Homo sapiens: one gene and its partners. The protein of the gene in region 1 interacts with the protein of each later gene in a biochemical or structural test. Each region holds a gene or a part of one and is shown in the gene's direction. Other genes may lie near its edges.

What was found. Proteins that work in one complex are often made in the same cells at the same time.
Region 2: the proteins of ATF1 (region 1) and SPI1 form a complex in vitro, tested with the Homo sapiens proteins (one study listed by BioGRID).
Region 3: of the proteins of ATF1 (region 1) and MAPKAPK3, one has a biochemical effect on the other in vitro, tested with the Homo sapiens proteins (one study listed by BioGRID).

Annotation. Positions count from the first base shown.
Region 1 is NC_000012.12:50,759,952-50,767,114, forward strand, and holds the start of ATF1 (cyclic AMP-dependent transcription factor ATF-1), read left to right. Parts: upstream 1-4,149; 5' UTR 4,150-4,356; intron 4,357-4,375; exon of another isoform or gene 4,376-4,453; intron 4,454-4,518; exon of another isoform or gene 4,519-4,603; intron 4,604-4,627; exon of another isoform or gene 4,628-4,973; coding exon of another isoform or gene 4,974-5,041; intron 5,042-6,099; exon of another isoform or gene 6,100-6,196; intron 6,197-6,737; exon of another isoform or gene 6,738-7,163.
Region 2 is NC_000011.10:47,375,528-47,382,517, reverse strand, and holds the start of SPI1 (transcription factor PU.1), read left to right. Parts: upstream 1-3,970; 5' UTR 3,971-4,164; coding exon 4,165-4,209; intron 4,210-6,785; coding exon of another isoform or gene 6,786-6,788; coding exon 6,789-6,885; intron 6,886-6,990. UniProt on the Homo sapiens protein: Pioneer transcription factor, which controls hematopoietic cell fate by decompacting stem cell heterochromatin and allowing other transcription factors to enter otherwise inaccessible genomic sites.
Region 3 is NC_000003.12:50,612,980-50,620,170, forward strand, and holds the start of MAPKAPK3 (MAP kinase-activated protein kinase 3), read left to right. Parts: upstream 1-4,171; 5' UTR 4,172-4,262; intron 4,263-4,534; 5' UTR 4,535-4,586; coding exon 4,587-4,805; intron 4,806-7,191. UniProt on the Homo sapiens protein: Stress-activated serine/threonine-protein kinase involved in cytokines production, endocytosis, cell migration, chromatin remodeling and transcriptional regulation.

The DNA of each region.
Region 1 (7,163 bases):
TACCACGCCTGGCTAATTTTTGTATTTTCAGTAGAGACGGAGTTTCACCATGTTGTCCAGGCTAGTCTCAAACTCCTGACCTCAGGTATCCACCCGCCTCGGCCTCCCAAGGTGCTGGGATTACAGGTGTGAGCCAATGCCTGGCCACATCTCTCTTTTCTAACAACAAAAAAGTGTGCCAGAAGAGCCAAAGTGGTGCTACCACAGGCTTGCCCAGTTTATTTTAAAAAAAACAATTACTTTTGGCCAGACACGGTGGCTCACACCTGTAATCCCAGCACTTTGGGAGGCTGAGGCGGGCGGATCACCTTAGGTCAGGAGTTCGAGACCAGCCTAACATGGTGAAACCCCATCTCTACTAAAAATACAAAAATTAGCCAGACGTAGTGGTAGGCGCCTGTAATCCCAGCTACTCAGGAGGCTGAGGCAGGAGAATCCCTTGAACCCAGGAGGCAGAGGTTGCAGTGAGCCAAGATACCCCCACTGCACTCCAGCCTGGGCGACAGAGCAAGACTCTGTCTCAAAAAAAAAAAAAAAATTACTTTCGGCTCTAAGTTTCTTTTTCTTTTTCTTTTTTTTTTTTTGAGGTGGAGTCTTGCTCTGTCACCCAGTCTAGAGTGCAGTGGCACGATCTCGACTTACTGCAACCTTCACCTCCTGGGTTCAAGGGATTCTCCTGCCGCAGCCTCCCAAGTAGCTGGGACCACAGGTGTGCTCCACCACGCTCAGCTAATTTTTTGTATTTTTGGTAGAGGCAGGGTTTTGCCATACTGGTCTTGAATTCCTGACCTCAAGTGATCCACCCACCTTGGCCTCCCAAAGTGCTGGGATTACGGAGGACGTGAGCCACCCTGCCCGGCCATGGCTCTAAGTTTCTTTGTTTCACTTTCCTTGCTTCTAATATTAAAGATCTGTCCATCTGATTTATGAAACTTACTATTCAGATAAACTGCATGCATCAGAACCAAGACCTCTTTTTTTTTTTCATCTAGTTATCACAGTTCAGAAGACTGGTAGGCACAGTTTATGATACTTCAATGAGAAAGAGACAAGAAAAGCAGAAGTATTTTTGAGGGGCAGTGTTGAACAAGCATAACTTTTTTTCTTCTTTTCCTCTGTCAACTGAGTCGTGGTTTTTTGTTTTTGTTTTTTTTTTTTGAGATGGAGTCTCACTGTTGCCCAGCCTGGAGTGCAGTGGCACGATCTCGGCTCACCACAAATTCCGCCTCCTGGGTTCAAGCGATTCTCCTGTCTCAGCCTCCCGAGTAGCTGGGACTGTAGGCTCACGCCATCACGTCTGGCTAACTTTTGTATTTTCAGTAGAGACGGAGTTTCGTCATATTTGCCAGGCTGGTCTCGAACTCCTGACCTCAGGTGATCCACCCACCGCGCCCTCCAAAGTGCTGGGATTACATGCGTAAGCCACCGTGCCCGGCCTGAGTTGTTTTTTAAACAATTTTAAAAAAAATTATTTTAGAGGCTAGGTGCCGTGGCTCATGCTCGTAATCCCAGCACTTTGTGAGGCTGAGCAGGCGGATCATTTGAGGTCAGCAGTTCGAGACCAAGACTGGCTAACATGGTGAAACCCCGTCCCTACTTAAAAAACTACAAAAATTAGCCAGCTGTGATGGCACACACCTGTAATCTCTCAGCTACTTGGAGGCTGAGGCAGGAGAATCACTGAAATCCGGGAGGTGGAGGTTGCAACGAGCCAAGATTGCACCAGTGCACTCCAGCCTGGGCGACAGAGGCAGACTCCATCTCAAAAAAAAAAAAAAAATTAGAGACAGTGTCTCATCTGTCATGTAGGCTTGAGTGCAGTGGCATGATCACAGCTCACTGTATCCTCAAACTCCCGAGCTCAAATGATCCTCCTGCCTCAGCCTCCCCAGTAGATGGGATTACAGGCGCATGCCACCAGGACTGGTCGAGCGTAACATTTGATTTAGACCTAAGGCACTAAGGAAGAGGAGCTAAAGAAGTAGTCAAGGCACATTTTGAAGGTTTCATTTTTCAATAAAATTTCCAGGTTTTTATTTTTTTTCTTTGGAGACAGTCTCCCTCTGTGGCTCAGGCTGGAGTGCAGTGGCGTGATCTTGGCTCACTGCAACATCTGCCTCCCAGGTTCAAGCGATTCTCATGCTTCAGCCTCCTGAGAGGCTGGGATTACAGGTGTGTGCCACCACACCTGGCTAATTTTTGTATTTTTAGTAGAGACGGGGTTTCACCATGTTGGCCAGGCTGGTCTCGAACTCCTGACCTCAGGTGATCTGCCCTCCCCCACCTCCCAAAGTGCTGGAATTACAGTCATGAACCACGACGCCTAGCCCCTCCCCCGCTTTTTACTGATCAACTTTTGTTAAGCATTCTGTGGTCCACGGAAGAAAAAACCAAACACCAAAGAACAATAAACTTGTACAACCAGCCTTCCAGCCATCAATATTCTGGATTCCAGAATGATTGAGGCTGGACTTTGTTAATCATCGAAGGCTGGTATCTGAGAAACTCTTCCTCTCCCTTACCTTTATAGGCCACTTTTCTTTCAGTAATGCTGAAACACTGACTTAATAACAGTTGTCCCCTGGTCTAGCATTTAATAGGTAATCCACAATTTTTGCTGAATGTCAATAGCTAAACGTTAGTGACCTCTTAAGACTGTCTGGCAGAGTAAATCTTCGGCTTTATATCACATTCTCCGACCCAAAGGGCCAAAAATAGGCAAAGCTCTCTCCACTAAATCGGTTTCCTAAATTGGGGATCTCAAACTAGTAAAATTTCAGAAAACTTTCGGAACTTTTGTCAAGAGCATACTAAAAAAGTTTATCTTTTGTCGTTTACTATCATTAAAGCCATAAAACAGCATTTTACAAGGAAATTTTAAAAATTAAGAATAAGGCATAACTCCCTTCCAGAGAGGTAGACCCAAAAATATTCTGAAGTTTTTGTAATGCATTAAAATGACGGCATAACATTTTATTAACACTCTGTTACGTTTCTTTTTTCTTTTTTTTTGAGACAGTTTTGCTCTTGTTGCCCAGGCTGGAGTGCAACGGTGCGATCTCGGCTCACCGCAACCTCCGCCTCCCGGGTTCAAGCGATTCTCCTGCCTCAGCCTCCCAAGTAGCTTGGATTACAGGCATTCGCCACCACACCCGGCTACTTTTGTATTTTTTAGTAGAGACGGGGTTTCTCCATGTTGGTCAGGCTGGTTTCGAACTCCCGATCTCAGGTGATCCGCCCTCCTGGGCCTCCCAAAGTGCTGGGATTACAGGCATGAGCCACCGCGCCCGGCCACATCGTTATGTCTCATTGTAAATCCGTTTCTGTAGAAAATCCTTCCACATGGGTTAAAGGACACAACTCATTGTTACTTTATGGGATTAAGAAAAATCTGAGTAAGGCCGGGCACGGTGGCTCACGCCTGTAATCCCAGAACTTTGAGAGGCCGAGGCGGAGGATCACTTGAGCCCAGGAGTTCAAGACCAGCCTGAGCAACATAGAGTCCTCATCTCTTCAAGCCGAGCGTGGTAGCGCGCGCCTGTGGTCCCAGCTGCCCCATAGGCTGAGGTTGGAGAATCGCTTGAATCCCGGGGTTGGAGGCTGCAGTGAGTCGAGATCGAACCACTGCACTACAGCCTGGGCCACAGACCCCCGTCTCAATCTCGGAAAAAAAAAAGAGACTCCATCTAAAAAAAAAAAAAAAAAAAAAAAGCTGAGGAAGTCAAAGCCTTCACTCTTCATTTCTCCTTCCAAGAGGACAGGGCCGGCGTCGGTCAAGGTCAATTGGCAGGTGAGTTGACAGCGCCGCCACTAATCGATGAAAACGCCCCCCGCGAGCACCCAGCTGCTCATGGCCTCCGGAAGCGGACGTAGGGCGGGTGGGGTACAGCTCCTAAGGAGAAACGGAACCGCAGGCACCGTCCCTCTCCCGCTGCAGCCTGAGGAACGCGTTCCGAGGAACCCCTAGCCACAAGTCAGGACCGCGTACAAGATGGCGGCGCGTCACGTGGGCAGCGCGGTGACGCAGGACGGCGGCCCGCGCGGAGGCAGCGCCATAGCCTACCCCAAACGCACACTAGTGCTCAGTTTTGCCCCCCTCCCCTCCCCCGCCCCCGCCCCCGCCCCCAGGCTTGTGTAGATCATGCCGCCAGTAGCGGCCCTGACTGCCGAGGAAACGGTAGCTTAGGACAGTTGGCTGTTAAGTGACACTGATTCTCCCCGCCCCGCCTGACCCCCGAGAAGGAGGCTTGTCCCCCGCTGCGTGAGGGGGTGGGGAAGTGGGTAGTGAATTCGGATCTACCTGGGAGGGGGGAGTGGAAGTTCCCGCCCCGGAGAGCGGCGAGGCGGCAGCCACAGGTAAGTGGGGGGCGGGGAGGGACGTGCCCCGTGGCCCGGGCGGGGAAGGACGCGGGAACGTGGCGCCGGCGGGGACGCAGCGCGGGTCGCGCGCCTGGTGGGGGTCGCGCGCGGTGGTGGCGGTGGGGGAGGGGCGCAGCGGCAGGGGGAGGGGCCGCCCGCGCTTCCGGCCTCCGCGCCTCGGTGCAGAGCTGCGCTGCGCCCTTCCAGTCGTGCGTCTCCTCCTTTCCCTCGCCCCCAAATAAAAGTAAAGCCCGAAACCGCCCGCCGCGGGGTGGCTTTCGCCTCAGAAGCCGCCCTTTGCAGTCGCAGGCGCTAGCTCTCCGTGGGAGGTCTCGAGGTTGGGCCCGGAGCCGGGCGGAGGGCGGCGCGGATATGGCCTCGGCGCGGTGTCCGCCGAGCGGAGCCCGGGTCTGGTTAACCCCGCGACAGGGTCCTCGAAGCGCGTCGGCGCTGGCGACCCTGAGGGAAGAGGCGCGCCCCTTACCCTCCTGGAGCTTGCAGTCTAGCGGGCAACCGACGCACGGGCATTGCGCACGCCCCAGACAGTCCTGGAGAGATGCGCCTGGCAGCGGAGACAGAGTGGGGACAGTAGGCGGCTTTACCCCTGGCTAGGAATGACACAAGGGCGTCTGTACCCTTTGGGATGGGCGACCCAGCCGAGGGTGACTTTCTCTTTGATCTTGTATGTCAAAAAACGAAGCCTGGCATTTCTCACTTTGATCGACGCCGTGCAGCTGGCGGCTGAATCGCTTTGAAATGATTGCAATGTGAAATAATGTCTGGTTGTGGCGCTAGTGTTTTGAAGAGATTGGGCAACTGGTAGTCTTTGAGAACCTTTAGGGTTCAGAAGCTCGGCGTGGATCTGGCAGGCATCTTTGTCAAACTGGCCTCACCTGTGATGAGTTCGTAGGCATTTATGTCTCAGAATGCATTTTAACCTGAGGTTTTTGTTAACAGAAATGCGTTCTTCTAAAATGCTCTTTTTTCTTGGAGTTTATCATATGCAGTTATCTCCGTGTCTTAATTAGAATCAATACTGTTGCCCTAAAGTCGAATGTATTAGCTCTTTAATACTTGCCGTTATCTTTTAGGGTTAGGTTTGGTCTGTGAGCTATCTGTCCATTCCTACCCGATCACCAGCAGGTGGCAGTCCCTTCTGACTTTAAATATAGGGTGTGCTATCTTTGCCAGTTTTTGTTTTGTTTTGTTTGTTTGTTTGTTTGTTTTTAAATAGAGATGGTGTCAGAGGCGTGTGAACTAGAACAACTCCATCTTAAACAGGAGCTGGGTAAAATGAGGCTGAAACCTACTGGGCTGCATTCCCAGACAGTTAAGGCATTCTAAGTCACAGGATGAGACAAGTCAGCACAAAATACAGGTCATGAAGACCTTGCTGATAAAACAGGTTGCAGTAAAGAAGCCGGCCAAAACTGAAATGGCCACAAGAGTGACCCCTGGTCATCCTCACTGCTACACTCCCATCAGCGCCATTTACAAATCCCATGGCAATGTCAGGAAGTTACCCTATATGGTCTAAAAAGGGGAGGCGTGATTAATCCACCCCTTGTTTAGCCTATCATTGAGAAATAACAGTAAAAAGGGGTAACCAGCAGCCCTTGGGGCTGCTCTGTCTATGGAGTAGCCGTTCTTTTTATTCCTTTACTTTCTTCATAATGTTACTTTTACATCGCACTGTGGACTTGCCCTGAATTATTTCTTGCGCGAGATCCAAGAACCCTCAGTTGGGGCCTGGATCAGGACGCCTGTCCTGTAACATATTTCTGGCGACCACAAAGGGACTATAGTGCAGAAACCCTGACCCAACGGCTACCTTTGGGTAAGTGTTGGGGTCCTGTAACGTATTTGTGGTGGCCACAGAAGCGACTATACTGCGGAAACCCAGTATTTATGTTTAGGAGTCTCTCCTAAGACAGTGGGTTCGAGGCCCCTCTTAATAAAAGGCAAGGACGCTTAAGCTTGACTGACCTTGGGTTGGAGGCCCTTCTAAGATATAGGGAGTTAGAGTCCCTCTCAGGTAACTCCCTCTCAGCTAAGAACAGGTTTGGCACTATGGGATATTAACTGCTGTTCTCTTTGGATTAATCTGCCTTGCGCTCTTTGCTGATGGCTGTGGGTGACAGAGTTAGGCATGAACAGGATCGTGGGACATGGGGAGCTTTTTCCTCTCTAAAAGGGGAGTCTTTTTTTTTTTTAATTTAAGTTTTAGGGTACATGTGCACATTTTGCAGGTTAGTTACATATGTATACATGTGCCATGCTGGTGCACTTCACCCACTAACTCGTCATCTAGCATTAGGTATATCTCCCAATGCTATCCCTCCCCCCTCCCCCCATAAAAGGGGAATCTTGAGAGCTGATGGGACTGCTGGAAAAGGTCCCTTTGCTGCGTACAAGCGGCTGCCTGAGGTTTTCATTGTCGGCTGCAATGAGTGGGTCTTTTCTCTGGCCTCCCTAAGCTCTTCAGCTTCCCCACCCTGCCACAGGCAATACTTTTCTTATCTACTTTGCGTTTCTTATTTTTTCTATTACTCAGGGCAACCATCTTACCTAGAGGCCACATGTTGAAACTCCAAGTCGGAGGTTGAATTAAAGATGACAGGCCCATCTGGGGGCAAATTTAAGCCTTGCTAGTTTGATATTGGGTGCTAAGCGGAGTGGCTAATGTCTTTGTTTTATCACACGTATTTTGCTCTGGCCAGAATGGAAAAAACATAATTTTCCTTTATGATACGGCTTGGCCCCCAGGGCAATGATGCTGCAAGCTTGAACACTAGGACCACTAA
Region 2 (6,990 bases), on another chromosome or scaffold:
TGTACCTGGCACCTCCTCTCTTGCCCCACTATCTGCTCACATGACCCTCTGCAGGCCTGTAAGCTGCTGGAGGCTCCGAGTATGCCTCATTCATGTCTATCCCCCTTACTAGGCCCAGACCATGGAAGACACTCAATAAAAAGTAAGTGATTAAATGACAACCTCTACGGAAAAGAGTATGGAGATTTCTCAAAGAACTAAAAACAGAACTACCTTTTGGCCAGATGCAGTGGCTCACACCTATAATCCCAACATTTGGGAAGGCTGAGGCAGGTGGATTGCTTGAGCCCAGGAGTTCAAGATCAGCCTGGGCAACATGGTGAAACCCTATCTCTACAAAAAATACAGAAAATTAGATGAGACTACAGGTGGCACACATCCATAGTACCAGCTACTCCAGAGGCTGAGGCGGGAGGATCGCTTGAGCCCAGGAGGTCCAGGCTACAGTGGGCCAAGATCACGCCATTGCACTCCAGCCTCAGTGATAAAGTGGCATTCTGTCTCAAAAGAAAAAGAACTGGCCAAGCATGGTGGCTCACGTCTGTAATCCCAGCACTTTGGGAGGCCGAGGCAGGTGGATCACATGAGATCAGGAGTTTGAGACTAGCCTGGCCAACAATGATGAAACCCCATCTCTACTAAAAATACAATAATTAGCTGGGCGTGGTGGCGGGCGCCTGTAATCCCAGCTACTCAGGAGGCTGAGGCAGGAGAATCATTTGAACCCGGGAGGCAAAGTGAGCCAAGATTGTGCCACTGCACTCCAGCCTGGGCAACAAGAGCGAAACTCAGTCTCAAAAGAAAAAGAAAAAGAGAGAAAAGAAGAAAGGAAAAGAAATATCATTTGATCCAGCAATCTCACTGAGTATCTAACCAAAGGAAAATAAATCACTATACCAAAAAGATACTGCATTTTTATGTTTATCACAGCACTATTCATAATAGCAAAGACACAGAATCAACCTAAGTGTCCATCAACGGATGAGTGAATAAATAAAATGTTATATTTTTATATATATATATATATATAATGAAATACTATTCAGCCATAAAAAAGAATGAAATTATGTCTTTGCAGCAACATGGATGGAATTGGAGGCCATTATCATAAGCGAAACAATGCAGAAACAGAAAGTCAAATACTGCCTGTTCTCATGTATAAGTAGGAGCTAAATAATGTGTACACATGGACATAGAATGTGGAATGACAGACACTGGAGACTTGCAAGGGTGGGAGAGTGGGGAGGCATGGTGAGGGATGAGAAATTACTTAAAGGGCACAATGTACACTATTCTGGTGATGGATAAACTGAAAGCCTAGACTTCTCCATTATGCAATATATCCATGGAACAAAACTGCATTTGTACCCCTTACATTTATACAAAAAAGTGATTAAATGAATGAATGAATAAATAAGCATATAAACAAACCAAAGCAAGACAATAACACACACGAGTGAATGAATGAACACATCAAGCAGGGCCTAGATCTTGTGGAGTGGATAACCTTACACCCCACTGCACCCAGTCAGCTGGGGCTTGGCCTTCTTGATGGGGAAGTGGGAACAAGGATGGAACTGATGCCAAGCCAACCTGTCCCTCCCCTCCTTTTTGGGAGAGGCCTTGGTCAGGTTCCTAGGGAGCCCTGAGGACCTGTGGCCTGGAGCCTTTGGAGAGTCCCAAGTGCAGATACAAAGTCAGTGAAGGTGGAAGTCAAGTAGATCTAATGGTGAGCCCAGAGCTGTGAAATTCTGGTGTTTGCTGCTAATGAAAAAACACTTGTGGCCTAGGAATCCACTGGCAAGAAGGCAGGCCTGTCTTAGTGGAGTGGGAATTTAAAGCAAGGGGTTAGATTATACAGGGGAGGACACTGAATGTTCAAAATTCCTTCCCAGCAGAGGGGACTCACCAGAGATCACTGGGCCAGAAAAACAACAACAACAACAACAACAACAAAACAAAAATGCCTCTACTCATCCCTCCACCCCCCAGAAAAGATCAGGAACTCTCTGAAGGCAGGGGTCTTGTATAATACTTTTTTGTTTTCCCAGCGCTCAGCTTAGAGCCTGGAACTCAACATTGGGAAGATGCATGGATGGACAGATAAGTGGATAGACAGATAGATGAATGAGTGGATGGATGGATAGATGGATGGGTAGATGAGTGGATTGGTGGATGGGTGGATTAGTGAATCGGTAGATGTGTGGATGAGTGGATGGATGGATGGATGAATGGATGGATGGATAGATAAGTGGATGAGTGGATTGGTGGATGGATGAATGGATGGATGGATAGATAAGTGGATGGGTGGATTTGTGGATGGCTGGATGAATGAGTGGATGGATGGATAGGTGGATGAGTGGATGGATGAATGGGTAGATAGCTGGATTGGTGGACAGGTGGATGAGTAAATGGGTAGATGGGTAGATGGGTGGATAGGTGGATGAATGGATGGATGGATGAATGGATGGCTGGATGGATGAGTGATACCAAAAAGATACTGCATTTGTATGTTTATCACAGCACTATTCATAATAGCAAAGATACAGAATCAACATAAGTGTCCATCAACGGGTGAGTGAATAAATAACATGTTATATTGTATTTATATATATATATAATGAAATACTATTCAGCCATAAAAAAGAATGAAATTATGTCTTTGCAGCAACATGGATGGAATTGGAGGACATTATCATATGCGAAACAACGCAGAAACAGAAAGTCAAATACTGCCTGTTCTCATGGGGCTCCTGGAAACCGAAGCTGATAGGTGAATGGATGGATAGGTGGATGAATAGATGGGTGGAATGGTAGGTGGGTGGATTGGTAGATGGGTGGATGAGTGGACTGGTGGATGGATGGATGAATGAATGAAGGGGTAGGTGGATGATGGATGGGTTGATGGACAGATGAGTGGATGGGTAGATGGGTGGATGAGTGGATGGGTGGATGGATGGACAGGTGGATGAATGGATGAGCAGATTCATAGATGGATAAACAGATGGAATTGTGGACTGATGGACTGATAGCAGGTGGACGGGCTGATTAATGGACATATAGATGGTTAGATAGACAAGTAGATAAACAGATGGGTGGGTGGATGAATTGACTGACAGATGAATGAACAAACAAACGGACAGTTGGATAAATGGACACATAAGTGAATGCATGGTGGGCTTGATGAATGGATAGCTGGATGGACAAATAGACAGACAAATAGATGCATGGGAAAACAGATGAATGGTGGATAGGCAAGAAAGGTTTGTAAACCAGGAGGGTTAGATTGATATTCAGGCATTGCCAAGGGATGGGGAAACTGAGAAACCTGGGCTGGAAACAGAGCCCTAGGGATTTGAATGTGGTAATCAAGAAGCTGGGAGGGGAGGGTATAAGAACCCAGGACCCTCTTCTGGTGGTAGGGAAGCCCATGTGAACAGATTCAGAGGGAAGGAAGAAAGCAGCACTATGCTGAAGACCCTACACCTGAGCCCAGCCTCAGCCTAGGGATAGCCTAGGCAGTGGGGGTGCAGGGCCACAGGAAGAGCCAGGCCTGATAGCCTGCTAGATCAGAGCCCTCACCCAGGAAGGCTGACTCCAGAAAGTGGAGGCCCCAAGAGGCCACCCCTTCCAGCTCTGACCCCAATGAGGTGACTGTTGGCTACATAGGGATCTCAAAAGAAGCAGGCATTTGTTGGGTTAGAGCAAAAGCCTCCCAGTGGTGTGGCAGAGCTACACGTTCTCCCTCCCATCCTCCCTCCCCAGCTTAGCCCCCAAAGTCATCCCTCTCAGTCCCAGCTTCCTCTGGGCAGGGGGCCTGGACCCCATGGCTTCCCAGGCCAGCCCTTTGAGCACCACCTGCCCCAGCCGGCCAGAGACTTCCTGTATGTAGCGCAAGAGATTTATGCAAACGGGTTGGGGCGGTGATGTCACCCCAAGGGGACTATCTCCCAGCGGCAGGCCCTTCGATAAAATCAGGAACTTGTGCTGGCCCTGCAATGTCAAGGGAGGGGGCTCACCCAGGGCTCCTGTAGCTCAGGGGGCAGGCCTGAGCCCTGCACCCGCCCCACGACCGTCCAGCCCCTGACGGGGCACCCCATCCTGAGGGGCTCTGCATTGGCCCCCACCGAGGCAGGGGATCTGACCGACTCGGAGCCCGGCTGGATGTTACAGGCGTGCAAAATGGAAGGGTTTCCCCTCGTCCCCCCTGTGAGTACCGGGACTCCTCCACCAGCCCAACCCGTGGCCCTCGGACGCCTGCCTGCCTGCCCACGAACCCGCCAGCCCACCCACTGCCCTCCTGGCTTGCTATCAGTGGGAAGTCAGGGTTTCCTCCCTGGAACTCCTGGCCTGAGACCCAGCGAGGGGGCCATTGGCTTCCTCGGAGCATGCCCTGGCGGGCTGAGGCCAGGCCCACGGTGGGGCTGTGATCGGTGGGGCCTGAACAGTTATTTATAGACAGGGCTCGGGTGGCAGGCGGAGGCCGGGGCTCCTGGGGAGGGTGCTGGGCTGAGGATGGTGAAGGCGGTGGTAGAGAGGTAGAGGAGGGAGATGGGGGGACTGGCTTGGGGGAGGCCGGTCCCCTGGATGGGAAGGGGTTGAAGGCAGGAGGCAATGGGCAGAAGTCTTGGCCCATGGCCTTGGGGCTCCTGGAAACCAAAGCTGATGGAACTCTGGGTCCCCAACGCCCAGTCTGGGGCCTGGCACAGAGGACATGATTGTTGACCAAAGGGTCAGGGCCATGGGCCCACAGGGGTACCCACAGGAGACAGGGACTGGTGCTGGAAAGGAGCCAGGAGTGGAGCTGAGACAGTGCAGTTAGGGCTGGCCCCAGGGCTGGAGTTCAGGGAGAGGCGCGGCAGGGGACAGGGCTGGGACAAGGCCAGGACTGAGATTGGGGCTGGGTGGGACCTGGGGTGAGCATGTGATAAGTGAGAATGGGGGCTGAGGCTGGGACAAGGACAGGGACTGGGTCTTGGGGGTGAAGAAGTGGGAGCCCCAGGGGACCCCGAGAAGAGAAGGGCAGATCGCCACTGCTCCTCACTCTCAGTGACAGTTGCAGCCTTAGGCAGGTGTCAGACCAGGGTCCCTCGGAAAGGACCCTTCTCCCTTTTCCCACCCCATGACCTCTCAGGAGTGAGGAGGCTTGAGGGGAGCCGGGAAGGGCTTGGCAGGCTGCCCACCTGAATCCACTTTCCTGGTCTAGAGGCAGCTCCCTTCCCCCACTATGCCCTGGCTCAGAGCCACCCCAGGAGGCTGGGAGGCACCCCAGGCCTGACATCACACCAACCCGACCAGAGCCGGGCTGACATCCTGCAGCGAGGCTGTACTACCTGGAAACCCAGAGGGGCAGGCTCAGTGCTGGGCTCCTGGCCTCCTCACTTGGCCAGCCACAGGCAGGACCAGGCAGGACCAGCCAGCCTGCTGTGGCATCCACACCGACACCCCTTCCCACCTGGGAACACGAAGTGGGCGGCCCAGGCAGAGGGTGACGGAGGTTGTCTCAGAAAGAGCCAATTCTGCCTCAAGAAAGCCACAGGCCCACTGTCTCTGATCCCTGACCTCTCAATTCTGAACTCCAGGTGGAGCTAGATGGGTGGCAGAGCTCCTTGGGCCATCCCTAGGCACCCCCAGCCCTCTCTGCAAGCTCCAGGGTCACTCTGAGTGTCTCCTGGTAGGGTGGGCTCCCAAGGCAGCCCCGGTCCCCCAAGCCCAGCCCTAAGGGCCACAGTGACTGTTATGCAATCCTGGGCCACACGCTGCGGGGGCGGGGAGGCCTGATGACTGTTGGGAAGGCTCCTGGGTGTGCACGGCCCTGTGTCTGTGCCAGTAGGGGGAGGAGGACAGGGAGGAGGGAGGAAGGTGGGAGGAAAGAAGGAGGACAGGGAAGAGGGGGAAGAAAAGGAGGACAGAGGGGAGTGAGGAGGGGGAGGAGGAAGCAAAGGAGACGGGGAGGGGGATGCAGTGAGGAGGGAAGGAGGAGGATAGGGAGGACTCAGGAGGGAGAGTGAGGGGATCAAGGCCCTCCATGCGCTCGGCCCCTAAGTCTGCCTGGGTGACCCCTGCACCAACCGTCAGTGTGGAGGGTCATTGTGGTGCCACTCTTGCCCAGGCTGTGTGAGAGGCATAGGCTGTGAGAGTGGGGCTGGGCAGGCAAGTGTGTGCTGTGCGGTTGAGTGTGCAGGTGGAATGTGAGTGGCTCTGGGGGTGTGAGTGTGTGTGTTGATGGCTGGAACGTGGTGTCATGTGAGTGTCAATCAAGGAGACTCTGCGTGTGTGCATGAGCTGAGTGTACAATGTCTCTGTGAGGTGGGTGACCTCTGAGTGGGTATGAAGATGTGTGTGTGAGGGATAGTGTGCAGGCGCCTGCATGGGGGTGGGTAGGGGCTGTGAGAGTGAGTCCTCGTGTGGGATTATGAGTGTGAGGGTGACACAGGGATCGTGTGGACATGTGCATCAGTGTGACCAGGAGAGGTGTGTGGGATGAGGATGGGGGCACACAGGCGTGAGTGTGAGTGTGAGCGTGAGGTGGCTATGGGGAGTAGCCCAGCAGAGGGGGACCCTGGTCCTCTTCTGACCTCTCACCCCCAAGGTCCCTGTCACCCCTTTTCAGGCCTTCTGGGTCCCCTGCCCCACTCTCTGTCCCAGTTCCAGGCAGAGGGAGGGCTGTAGGTCCAACGCAGCCACTGAGCCAGGGAAGGTGATGGGGACCCAGCGTGCGGGGGTGCTGCAGGCCTGGCTGGGGTCTCCCACCATGGTGCAGGCCCTGACACCTCCTCTCTCAGCAGCCATCAGAAGACCTGGTGCCCTATGACACGGATCTATACCAACGCCAAACGCACGAGTATTACCCCTATCTCAGCAGTGATGGGGAGAGCCATAGCGGTGAGTACGGGGCCTGCCACGCCCCCATCCCCCAGCCCAGCCTGGGCTCCTGGGGTCTGGAGAGAGAAAAAGAATAAATGATTCCCAGGACTTCTTTGGAATTCT
Region 3 (7,191 bases), on another chromosome or scaffold:
GCTCCTACCAGGACCCTCTCCACCTTTTTTCAGTTCACTGGATTCACTATGGAGCATCTTGAAGGACTGTAGGGTCTGTGAATCTCCTCCAAACCCTTGGGCCAGAAGAACTGTGGGATTTGGAGAGGTTGCAGGGTCCACTCCCCACCCCCATCCCCCTCCCAGTGTGTGCCCCCAGGGTCCCCAGAAAGGAGTCTAGCTCTGAGATCCTGGGCAGGGATGACAGACCCCTGGCCTTGTTGAAGGGCCTGAACGATAGCATCCAGGGAAGACAGGGCTCAGTTTGCTCTGCCCAGAATGGCAGAGGGCAAAAGAAACCTGAAAGCAAAACCCTGTGAAACTGGGGAAAAAACGTTAAGTTTCAGATTTCAGGGCAGTCACTTCTCTGTAGCTTTCCTGAAGGGAAGCCGGGCTTCATGAGTGCAACTCTGCCAGCCCCCTCCTGAGTTGGCCAGAAGCCACTTTCTTGGAATGGGGGTAGGGGGGATGGATACCTTATAACCCACTTTGAGGGCTGGGATACCTGGATAGCCTGATATGCGGCCCCTGTGTGGACCACTGACTTGCCAGTAGGAACTGTCCACTGTCTCATTACTATGAAGACAAAAGGACTTTGCCGCTGCCAGGCAACAGAGTTACAATTTTGAACTTGGGTCTCTTATGGGGCCAAATCCCAAGCTCTCTACCAAAACTATACTTCTTCCCCCTCACCATGACTATTCAACTGAACACTTACTATGTGTCAAGCACTCTCAGCAATTTGCAGCCTCATGTCATTGTCACAACTACCACATATTATCTCCTCTTTACAGGTGAGAAAACTGAGGCATGGAGAGGTTACAATATAACTTAGATCTCCCAGCTGGCAAGTAATGGTTTAAGCCAGGAGCCTACACACTTCCTCCTACTTCCTCTATGGGTGCTGGTGATCTGCCGACTCCTAGACATCCAGCTTTAAGGTCCTCAGTGAAGCTTCTCTGCCCCCAGGCCTGTCCATGTCAGAGCACCATGGGTGTCCCTTTGAAAGTATCTCCTACAGGTCAGTGATTATGCAGTCTATGTGTAAACCAAAGGGTTCCAAGGGTTTTGGCCTTCCAACTATTTTTGTGTGTGTGTGAATATGACAGCACTGTGCACCTCACCTGCATGCTGGGAACAGTGATGTGCCCCTGTTCTGCCCCAAGTACTAAGTTGGGTCCCTCTGGCCAACTTAGTACTTAATTCTCCTGCCCTGGCTGCTCCCTAGAAACCCTGGCTCTGATTGCTGGGCCCACACTGCCACCTAGCGGTGCCCCCTCTCATGCCCTCACTAGCCAAATTTCCATAGATTCTTCTCTTCTAGGATAATCCCTCTCCTGCACCCCAGGGATTGAACTTACTGCAAGATTCCCCTGCCACTCCCTACCCAGAACAATCACAAGATGAATCACAAGAATACACAGCAGTGCCTTCCCAAAAGTCTCGCTCATTTGGCCTCCATCCTCTCACCATGTACAGCCTCCCCTCTCCAGTAAGGACAGAGTGTGTGTGTGTGTGTGTGTGTGTGTGTGTGTGTGTGTGTGTAGGATTTAGCCCCCCTCACTTTAAGCTATTCCAAAGTCTCTGTCCCCTTGGACACACAGCTACATGAAGGGCTGTGTGGCAGAGTCTGCCATCATGAACCCACTCCTGACCAGACCTAGCCATCCTGCATGCCAAATCCTCCCATCATTGTGGAGGGGATGCTGCAGGTGGTTGCTGGAACATGAGCACTAAGGGAAACCACATATTCTGACTTTCCTGGGCTAAGTGAGTAGTTTCAAGGCATCTCTCCGATGGACCCATGTGGGGAATGCGTGTGCCTGTGGAAGCATGGACACTGGTTATAGGGACTGGGAGGGGAGAAGCAGCACCTTTGCCTTACTTTTCATACTTCTGTATAATTTGAATTAATTACAATGAGGAAGTTTTACTTATGCAACTTAAAATTTTAATAAAAGAGACCAGCTTAAAAAATACAATTATAAAATTTGTAGAGCAATTATAATCTAATTCCATTTTAAAGAAAGAAGACATCTTCACAGAACATTCAGTGGGATGCCTTTGGCTGGGGCAAGGAGCCAGCCTCCACCCTCAGCTGCCTAGCCTTCTGCTCACCAGAATGACATCTTGCTCAGCCTCAGGTTCACCAGGCTCAAACTAGTTGCCTTCAGAGAGCAGAGAGCCTTCTTTGGCTCCCCCCAGCAGTAGAAGATTCCAGATCATAGGGCTTTCAAAGAGGCTCTGAGATCTTGAATCAGATTCTCAGGTTGGGCTCAGGGACATCAATCCTGGGTCCAGCTGGGCATAAATGCATGTGTGTGTGCACATGTGCATGTGTATCTGTGTGCATGTGTGTTATATGCATGTGTGTTTATACGTGTTATATGCATGTGTGTGCACATGTGTAAAGGTGTGACTGCATGTGTACATGTGTGAGAGTATGTTTGCACATGTGGCTGTGTGAGGAGCCAGAAAGGACTAGGAGAGGAGGCCATGGTTTGAGGATAAGAGCCCAGCCCTGAGGTTGTGCTTTGGAGTTGGAATGGGGGCTCTGTCATGACAGCTGCTGACCTCAGACAGGTCACTTAACCTCTCTGGGCTTTTCTGTCCTGTGTGTCTGTAGTGTGGGGCAGAAGGGATAGTGTGACCTCCTCTAGGCTCTGTAAGGTCAGGGGGTTGCAGGGAGAGCACATTCCCAGCATCTGGTCTGCAAGAAGTGTTCACTATGGCCAGCTGAGGCTATTGTCTGGAGCCTCCTGCTTCACTGAACACTGCTAGCTTGAAGGTTGCCTGAAAGAAATAGGGGCAGAGCCCCAACCCCATCTCCACTCAACATCTGCACACAGTGGGTACCCACTAATAAGTTGTAGCACCCTTTCAGTCACTCATTCACTCATTCATTGACAGAAGATCATCTTTCCAAGAGCTACTTCTCTGATGAGCCTGCACATGCAGCCCAGGGGTCCGTGAGTGTGCGTGTGTTAACCAGAGGGGCTGAGGGGGAGGCGCTCACTGGGCCTAAATTCCGGAGCCAAGAGTAGGATGGCTGGAAGACGCCTCTGAGTGGAACCGAGGTCCTGGTACCTGCAGTCCTGTAGATGGCCTGTAGATGACAGCAGAGGCCCATGCAGAGCCCCTGCGCTGAGCCGCACCTTCCCAGTTCCAAGTGAGCCAGCTCGCTCAGGTCCCTCAGCTTCCGGATTGGGGGAGTGATGTGATGTGCGCAAGTAGTTCAGATCTGTCCCAGAAGACAGCCACAGCCACCCTCCCTATGGCTCTAGACAAGTTGTTTTCTCCCCAGGGGTCCCAGTTTCCTCATCTGTGAAATGAGAGTTGCTTAACAGCCGGTGTTGGGAAAACTGGCTCAAAATACGTAAGGTAGTCTAAGATGGGCTTAACAGAGACTTATATGTGCAAGGCAAAACTAGAAAGCTAATGGAGAATATCTGTCACTCGGATGGGAGACAGAGACTTTTTAAACACGACGCCAAAAGCCCAAACCATAAGGTGAAATGTTGGCGGATCTGATCAAATGGCAACTCGGGATTTCTGGTCCCCAGGATGCTGTATATACCAAAGGGAAGCAGCGAGTCAAGGGCATAAGCGGGAGCTGCAAAAAGGGGGCAGTCGCCAGTGCTGGAGACTCCCAGAGCCACCAGAGACTAAAGAGTGGCGAATTCAACAACGACAAGATGCCACCTCCCTCGGCATGTTTAAAAAGTTGAGTACGCTGAGGGTTGGCCAACACTAGGCAAGTCGGAAGCCTAGCAAGCCATACTGGAGGGCCACCTGGCAGCGTGCAGAGCAAACACCCGACTCAAGGAGAGCTTTCAAGAGAAATAAGACGTCCTGCGCTGTCACGTTCTAGGTTGCGAGTAAAACCCGGGACCCGCACAGTAGCGGACTGCCAGTACAGGGGCCTCCCTGGGTGTCCCTGGAAACCGAGGAAGTAACCGCCCCCTCGGGAAGCCACGCCTCCTATTTTGTTCCGGCTCGGGGGCGGGACCCAGCCGGGGCCCGCCTGGCCCTTTAAGGCTGACCTAGCGGGGCCCCAAGTTGGGATGACGCGCAGGGAGCGGGGGGTGGAGTGGGGGAGTGGGGGAGGGGGGGGTGGGGAGGGGGGGGAGGTCACGTGGGCGCCGGCAGCGCGACTCTCGGCCCTGGGATTTCTGCGGCCGCCAGCTCCCGCGACCGCCTCTCCTGCCCCTCGCCGGTACCTCAGCAAGGTGCGTTGCCGCCAGGTACGCCCTCGCTGGGCCCCCTCTGCGGCCTCCTCCGGGGACCTCGCGGCCATTAGGCGCCCGGCCCCTTCCCTTCTTGACACGTGCCCGGGCGGTGCTCGCTTGTACCCCGCCGCGCGACCACCGCCCCTTGCTGCACGTCTGTACTCTCAGGCCGTTCGTCCCGCACTCCCAGCTTGCCCCGGGCTCGCAGCCCAGCCCAGTTCAGAGGCTCCAAGGCTGGGGTGTGTTGGAAAAGTCTGGGCGGGACTCACTCTTCCCCTTTCCCCCAGGTGCCACTAGAAGCGCCAGGCTGGGGCCGCCTCTGAGCGCCCCGCGGGGGCCATGGATGGTGAAACAGCAGAGGAGCAGGGGGGCCCTGTGCCCCCGCCAGTTGCACCCGGCGGACCCGGCTTGGGCGGTGCTCCGGGGGGGCGGCGGGAGCCCAAGAAGTACGCAGTGACCGACGACTACCAGTTGTCCAAGCAGGTGCTGGGCCTGGGTGTGAACGGCAAAGTGCTGGAGTGCTTCCATCGGCGCACTGGACAGAAGTGTGCCCTGAAGGTCAGTGAGCCCTCACTGAGGCCTGGGGTATCCTGGAGGGTCCACAGCGGAAGCCTGTGAGTGAAGCTATGTCTAGCGCCCCTGCTAAGCTTCCTATGCTCAGCAACATGTTTCATCGTCATACTGTCCTGTAAGGTCAGGCTTGTGGTCCTCCCTACTTCACAGATGGGGAAACTGAGGCGTAGCCTAGCTAAGCTTTGAGTGTCCCAGTGAGCAAGGGGTGGAGTCACTATGGCTAGAGATGCTGTATCCGGAAGCAGGGAAGGGGTGACTCCTGACTCTGGGATTCTGGCTGGACCCATGTGTTCAGGCCCAAAGGGGATCTCTTGTTCAGCTTGGCTGCCCCTTCCATGTGAAGCTCCTCTGACTGGAATGGATCTGTTTCCCTTTGCTGGAAGCTGAGACCCCACCAAGGCTTGGGTGGGACTGCTTCTTCCCTGTGGCCCCTGCCTGTCTGGGCTGGAGTGGTGTGAGCCTCCCAGGGCTGGCCAGAGGACAAGGCTGATGCCCACTGCACCTGTGGAGCCTCAGGAGGCTGCTGATAGACTCCTGACGAGTCGCTGGTCCCGTGTTGAAAGGGACAGGCCCTGGGCCAACCCACCCCTGGTTCCTGGGCAGAGGGCGGGCCAGCCATCTAGCCACCTCAGACTATAGGCTCCCTGGAGACCTGGCATGCTGATATAGGTGGCATGGTGGGGGTCAGGGGGATGCTGGGGGCGGGTACCTGGTTCCAGCTTAAGGCATACAGTTCTGGGCCTAGGGCCACACCCCATACCCAGAATCCCTTGAATCTGTCATCTCTGGGGTCTTTACTCATTTGTAGCTTGTGCCAATGGATGGGTAGAGCATGGCAGGGATAGTGGCTCCTGGAGGCTAGAAGTACAGCAAAGGCCCTTCTCATTTTACAAAAGATTTTTTTTTTTTGAGGCAGAGTCTCACTCTGTCGCCAGGCTGGAGTGCAGTGGCACAATCTCAGCTCACTGCAACCTCCACCTCCCAGGTTCAAGCGATTTTACTGCCTCAGCCTCCTGAGTAGCTGGGACTACAGGCGTGCGCCACCACGCCCAGCTAATTTTTTGTATTTTTAGTAGAGACAGGGTTTCACCATGTTGGCCAGGATGGTCTCGATCTCTTGACCTCGTGATCTGCCTGCCTTGGCCTCCCAAAGTGCTGGGATTACAGGCGTGAGCCACCGTGCCCGGCCTTTACACAAGTTTTAATTATGAGTCCAAGTGCAGAGTCCTCTAGATATGGCTAATAGCTATCCTGTGTTTGCCAGTTTCATGACCTTGGATGATATCCTAGACTCTGGAAGCCAGGTTTCTGCATCTATTCATGGGGAAAGATAAGGAGTTGTTGTGAACATGAAATGAGATTATACATTTAAAGCACTTGGTACAGGACCTGATACAGGTCTGGAGAGGTTACAGGACTTATTTAAGGCACAAGGTCTTAAAGCATCTGAGCAGGGAGCTGGACCCAGCTCTCTGTGTCTTTCCCAGGACCACTAGGGCCAACAGAGGAGGTTGTCTCCCCGGAGTACCTTGGAGGGGAACATGCGGGTGGGTCTAGGAGAGGATCAGGGTTGGGCTGGTGGGGCTGGGCCCCAGGTATAGCTTCTTTGCCCACTAACCCAGCAGTCGAATGGGGTCGGGGAGCTTTTCAGAGTATCAGGAATGGGATTCTCTGAGTCTTTTAGGGAAAAAGTGGCTCTTCTGAGGGCAGACGGGGGTAAGAGGATGAGGAATGAGAGTTTTCATCCCCCTCTGGGCACTATTTAACCTTCCACCTGTGCTAGGATTGAGGGCAGGCTGGGTGGGTGAGGGATTGAGGCCAGAGACCCACTTCTTAATACCAAGGCTTTGACCCTGTGGGCCAAGACTGAGCTCTGACCAGCCCCTGTGGTGTCCAGATGCTGTGGGTGAGTCAGGGATGGGGTGGGAGACCAGAATTTGTAGGCCCACACAGTGCCAGCTTTAAGTAAGACTGGACTTAACCCCTTCCCCATAGATGCTATGTCTGATGAGTGACTTGGGGTAACTTCTGACTGCAAGAACTTCCACAGCACCTCATCAGTGCTCTCCTTGTTCTGGACTGGGAATTGGGTCAGGCCTGGAGTGGATTTCCCTCTGTACCCCTTTATGGGTGAGCATGGCTAAGGCTACTAGCTTGGGACCTTCAGGATCTGGCCCTAAATTGGCCCTCAAAGGGGACATGGATTAGATGTGGCTCCCACTCCAGGACCTTCCTGTTCTTAGTATCACTAGTGACCAAGCCTAGAAGTCCTTACCCAGCTAAGCAGGCATTTACTATCTCCCAATATTGGGCTAAGCACAACCTCTGGTACAGTTATTTTACCTGTCTTGTGAGTGGTAGCTGTGGCCAC